2 separate regions of the Homo sapiens genome follow, and region 1 is linked to region 2. Evidence: fine-mapped expression QTL. A gene starts in region 2. The other region holds a variant in brackets. All regions are shown on one strand. Distances are from middle to middle. Region 1 overlaps SAMD15 (sterile alpha motif domain containing 15). Region 2 holds the start of VIPAS39 (VPS33B interacting protein, apical-basolateral polarity regulator, spe-39 homolog).

Region 1 (2,914 bases), 75 kb after region 2:
GAGTATCTCAAAGTTTGCTTATTCAAATTTCTTAGATAAAAGGACAGACCACTGGATTCGTCATTTACTCTTGAGGATTTCAGAAGATTTTTAAAACCTCTTGTGTCTCGCAAGATAAGAAAAACTATAATTAGAATTTTTATTACTGCATGTTGATATTGTACTTTTGGAATTAGAATACCAAGGGAGCTGAATGAATTGTCTGACTCTTAAAAATGCCTTCTCATGATAAAAAGCTGAAATTCTTGGTACTTAAATGTTCCAGGAATTTGACAGGTTACTATTTTGCTAATTCTGTTCCTTATTATTATTATTTTTTTAAGCGAAAGCAAGTTTATTAAGAAAGTCAAGGACTATGGCTGCTCCGTAGGCAGAGCAGCCTGTTCCTTATTTTTATCTAGAAAATTCATTATACCTTAAGTAGAAATTAGAGTTCATAAAAACAGCTGTATTATCTTTGAACATAAAAAGAACAAGATATTTATCTGGCAGTACTTGGTAGTTAAGTGAGGGCATGGTTGGAAATACAAGTATATAATAAATGATCCAGGCTGGGCATGGTTCATGCCTATAATCCCAGCACTTTGGGAGGCTGAGGCGGGTGGATCTGAGGTCAGGAGGTCGAGACCAGCATGGCCAACATGGTGAAACCCCGGCTCCACTAAAAATACAAAAATTAGCCAGACATGGTGGCACGTGCCTGTAATCCCAGCTACTTGGGAGGCTGAGGCAGGAGGATTATTTGAACCTGGGAGGCGGAGGTTGCCGTGAGCTGAAATCGAGCCACTGCACTCCAGCCTGGGTGACAGAGCAAGACTCTGTCTCAAAAAAATAAATAAAATAAATAAAGGATCATTTCCACATCATAATGTTTATAGTACATGGAAGTTTATGGTAACAAAAATGTTCACTTAGGCAATACAGTTAAATAGAACATGGATTGGGAAGTCACACAAGATGGACTTAAATCCTGGCTCTTAAACTTGTTATCTGAATATAAGTCGGGCGTGGTGGCTCATGCCTATAATCCCAGCACTTCTGGGAGGCCAAGGCCGGCAGATCACTTAAGGTCAGGAGTTTGAGACCAGCCTGGCCAATATCATGAAACCCTGTCTCTATTAAAAATACAAAAATTAGGCTAGGTGCGGTGGCTCACGCCTGTAGTCCCAGCATTTTGAGAGGCCGAGGCAGGCAGAGCACGAGGTCAAGAAATCAAGACCATCCTGGCTAACACGGTGAAACCCCATCTCTACTAAAAATACAAAAATTAGCTGGGCGTGGTGCCACGCGCCTGTAGTCCCAGCTACTCGGGAGGCTGAGGCAGGAAAATCGCTTGAACCCGGGAGGTGGAGGTTGCAATGAGCTGAGATCGCACCACTGCACTCCAGCCTGGGCAACGGAGTGAGACTC[G/A]GTCTCAAAAAAAAAAAACCCCAAAAAAACAACAAGAAGAAAAAATTAGCTGGGCATGGTTGCGCACACCTGTAGTCCCAGCTACTTGGGGGGCTGAGGCAGGAGAATCGCTTAAACCAGGAGATGGAGGTTGAAGTGAGCCAAGGTTACACCACTGCACTCCAGCCTGGGTGACAGAGCGAGACCCTGTCTCAAAAAAAACAAAAACAAAGACAAAAAACAGAAAAAACGTATTATCTGAATAGCTTGTTAAGTTGTTTCACCTTTCTGGGCCCCAGTTTTCTATAAAATGGGAATTAGTGAAATAATACATATAAGAGGCCCCAAACACAGTAAGCTCTCAGCAAAGCATAGCTATTAGCAGAATTTAAGAAAGTAAACGCTCAGTTAGGACTGTATGTTTAATAATTTAAAAAGTTTCGTTATATCTTCTTGCTAGTAAAAGGACTCAGGTATTAACAAGCATAGTTTTCTTATTTCTAAACCATATGACTTATGGAATTTTAGGGTTATAAGGCCTGTTGAAGAGTCATCTAGGGAAGAGATTCCAGGGCCTACCCAGCCCTAATGAATCAAAATCTCTGGAGGATGAAGCCTAGGAATGTATCTTTTTCAAAAAATCTCATTTGATTCTGAAGACGACCCAAGTTTGGAAACCACTGAGGTGGTACATTTCTGGGCATGGGTGTGCTGAGCAAAACCATGGTTATGCCAAGAACTGTCCATTCTTGGAGGGTTATTGGGGTGGGGTACTAAAGGAGAGGTTACACGTGAGATTGTTTGTGATGCTTTGTAAATTGCAAAGCACTACAAATGGAGGGTACTGTTATGCAAAGGAGAATAATCATGAACTGTTGGTGCTGGAGATTTTAGAAAATTGATGCTCAGAGTGGTTAATGTAGCTTGTTTCAAAGTTAGGCAGCAAAGCAGGCAAAATACATATGGTGTTATATAAGTGCCAAATGGGTGTCAGAGACACAAAATGTCATGAGAACTTGGGATGGGGGCTACTGTGGGCTGGGAATGTTACAAAAGACTTCTTGGGGAGATGCAAATGAGGAACTGGTCTTGAAGGATGATTAAGATTCATATTAGTAATACAGAGGATGGGGGAACTGAGCGAAGACATAGAGAGAAGAACGCACCAGGCAGGTTTGCGAAGGTGTTAGACCTGGTGGTAGGCTGGAGCACAAAATTCATGTGGAGGAGTGGTAGGGGAGAGAACTTGTGGAGGGCCCTAAATTCTAAACTAGGGAGTGGAGACTATCTTGGTAAGCAGAAGGGATCCAAAGAAGGTTTTTGAATAGTACATAAGTAGGTGGAAAGTGAGAGCATAAAAGCAGGGCCCTTGAATCCAAAGGGTCCATTGAGACAGGCTAAAAGCGGGAGGCCACTGTGGTGTTCTAGGCATGAGGCCATAAGGTCTGAAAAGTGGGAATGAAGAAAGCCAGACGGTGTAAGTGCCACAGGAGCAATGGACAGTTCTTGGAATATTTATGGGGAT
Region 2 (2,914 bases):
CTGCACAACACGTTCTCAATCTCCCGCGGGACCGCTGCAGCGGTCCCCTATGAATGACTTTTAATTTTACCGCAGGCCGCAAAATAGGAATTACAGACCCCTGGCCTTAGGCCTTTCACAGCTATCTCCCAACACAATCAAAGGAGGTTCCAGTCTCAGTGACTCCTCTGGCCACGTGTAATAAGCACCTCCCTGCTCGGGCTGGATGCAGCAGCCAGGGCGTTATCTCCTAGTCTCTCTGACAACCCTCCTCTGGGGCGCAGCCCTCCACGTCCATCTCCCTCCCCTCAAACACTGAGAAGGTGACCGCGGAGTGGAGAGGCCTGGGGCTACGGACCCCTGCCACAGGAAGGACCCACCCCCATCTCCGGACAGGGCTACCTCAGCCCCAGCTCTGTCCGGGCCGAGGTTCTAGGAACCCTGAAACCCTGGCCCGGCCGCAGGTCTCCCAAGGCCGGCCTGCTTTTCTGGCCCTCACCAGTGCCAGTTGTTGACGTTGGTGGCGTCCGCCCGCTCCTCCACGATCCAGCGTGGGTCTCCCTCACCCCACTTGGCCATCGGCTCTCCTATCGCGGCGCCACCAGCTCCGGAGCAGCCGTAGCCACAGCCTCAGGACCGCTTAGTGCCAGCCGCCCGGCAGCGCCTGGAAACTACTAGAAGCGGCCGCAAGCACCTCCTGGCTTGCTTTTCCCTCCACCCCCTCCCCTCCTTAACTTCCGGCTCCTCCCCACTCCCACCGGTTACTTCCGTCCCAACTCGCCGCACCGTGGGTTCCGCCTGATTTAGAGATCCTTCAGACTCCATCGGGTTCTCCCCAAAAAGCGTCCCGAAACCCAACTGCTCATACAACCATTCCTCACCCATAGGAAAACAAAGAACACGTCTCATTGCTTCCCTGGACCCTAAATCGCCCTTGCTGAGCCTCATGGGAATTGTAGTCTTGCTACGTGACTCGCTGGATAACCGCGGAAGGTCTCGCGGAAAGGAGAGGAAATGACCTAGCACGGTGCTTGGGGTTTCTGGGGGCTGTAGTCAAGAAGCCTTGTGGTTCGTCGGGACAGCGCCTGACAGCAGAGGCAGAAGAAACTACGACTTCCAGCATGCCCTGCGGTCTCGTTATTCGTGTTTTCTCTCCGCCCTACGATTATTCCCTTCCGCCCCCTTCTCTAAGCTGCACAGCCTGAATAGAAGGGCTGGTCCAGCGGCGGCGGAGGCTGGCGCTGTCCTGAGAGGGAGGGCTCTGTGCGGAAGAGGTGAGGGTGTCCCAAGCCCCTTGGGTCGCGTATCTGGCTGGATCCAGCCTCTCCGCATCTTGATCTTTTCCCCTCTTCTAGGAGGCATCCCTACACCCTATGACTACAGGCCTGATTCTCTTCTTTCAGTCAGGGCGACCCTTGGGCGCTGGAGTACGCTTGGGACTGGGGCTGCGAGTGAGCACCAGCGATTGGTTCGGAAGCGGACATTTGGTTCAGAACGAGCATTTAACTCTGCCAGGGATCCGCTGGGCTCTGACGACTGCGGTAGATCCATGGCTTCCTGGACGTTCACCCGTAGAGTCATCCTAGCTTAACTCTTGTTCCCTGGTCTCAGTTCACAAGCCTCACCTGTATCTTCCTGGCTCGGAAGATAATTGAAACCAAGTCTGACTTCTCAGTAGGTGGTTTTTGGAGTTTTCTGAGGCAGGGAGCATGTTGTGGTTTTCTTGCTGATTCTTCTGTTTTCCTTTGTAAAGTTCCTGTTCTCCCCTGAGGTCTCTCACCCTGCCTTGTGGGCTGTCAGTAAACAAGAGACGATAAAGACAAACCTCTGAAGTATTTTAAATCATGTTGAAGCACCTGTCACTCTTAAGAGTGACAATCGTACCTGATTACTTTATAACTCTAGAGCCACTAGATCATTATCTATACTTGCCAAGTAAACCTAGCTTCTCATTTGGCGTTATAAATACAAATTGATGGCAGTTGTCTACTGCCATTGCATGGTTAAAAAGATTCCAGAAATCCTCTGGTAGATTATTGTGTTTGTTAGACACATTCTATGTCTATCTGTAGATAATTACTATAGTGAAGGAATGATCTCTAGTTTTCTGGAAAGTGAAAAATAGGTAGAAGGACCATGCAAGACACTAGAAATGGTCTAGGAGCCAGAAAGCCTGGATTGTAATTTGAAATAGGAGCATTTAACAAAGTGGCTTTGATACTGAACTCTTTTGTGCCTCACTTTCCCCATGAGTAACATGGAAATGGAATCTCCCAGGCCTACCTTACAAGATTGTTCTGAGGATCAAACGAATGACAGAGTGATTTATGAACTGACATGTGTGCCAGAGACATTTATATGTTCTATACACATCTTCAGCATTTGTGGCTACTCAGAATTTTTGTATTTTTTTTAATCTTTAGGATTGCTAAAAAATATTTTCTTTTTTAGCTTTTCCCAAGGTACCAGGATGATGTATTAATAATAAAAGTTACTATTGAGTGTTAATTTTGGGTCAGGCACTAAGCACTTTACATGTATTAACTGGTTTACTCCTCAGAACCATTTCTAAGGTAGGTCATCTGTTATGCCCATTTAACAGACGGGAAAACCAAGACAGAAAAATGTCAGTATGATATTCCATATTAAAAGGAAATAACATTTAGTATTTACTTTCTGCTAGACACTTTTATAGATGTTCCCTGCAACCCTGTGAGATAGGATATAATTTTCTCCAAGGCTTAGAAGTAAAGTCATTTATCCACTTTGCTCAGAATTAAGAGAAACCAGGATTTGAACTCAAGGTTGCCTGACTACAATGTCTGTGTGGGATGATTTCATGGTGTCTGCCAGCATTTTTGGTTTATCTCCCTAAAATTAAATACAGAAAAGGATTTTTAAACAACCCTGTACCAGTAGAAATCAATTAGTGATG

What was found. PIP is the estimated chance that this variant, and not a neighbour inherited with it, causes the effect.
Region 1: its variant is the best candidate, but not a certain one, in a credible set for the expression of VIPAS39 in whole blood (TOPMed, PIP 0.82).

The regions. Positions count from the first base shown.
Region 1 is chr14:77,380,645-77,383,558 of GRCh38, reverse strand. All of the region lies in intron 2 of SAMD15 (sterile alpha motif domain containing 15), which reads right to left. Among named protein-coding and RNA genes, the nearest start is that of SAMD15, 4.7 kb to the right of the region's middle. RefSeq lists a silencer at 2,884-2,914. The variant G/A (reference allele first, on the strand shown) is at 1,411.
Region 2 is chr14:77,455,834-77,458,747 of GRCh38, reverse strand. It overlaps VIPAS39 (VPS33B interacting protein, apical-basolateral polarity regulator, spe-39 homolog), which reads left to right and starts at 1,147. Exons shown (of 20, transcript NM_001193315.2): 1 at 1,147-1,253. AHSA1 (activator of HSP90 ATPase activity 1) reads right to left here and starts at 655. Exons shown (of 9, transcript NM_012111.3): 1 at 479-655. The coding sequence starts at 558. RefSeq lists enhancers at 399-578, 304-826, 749-1,208, 827-1,349.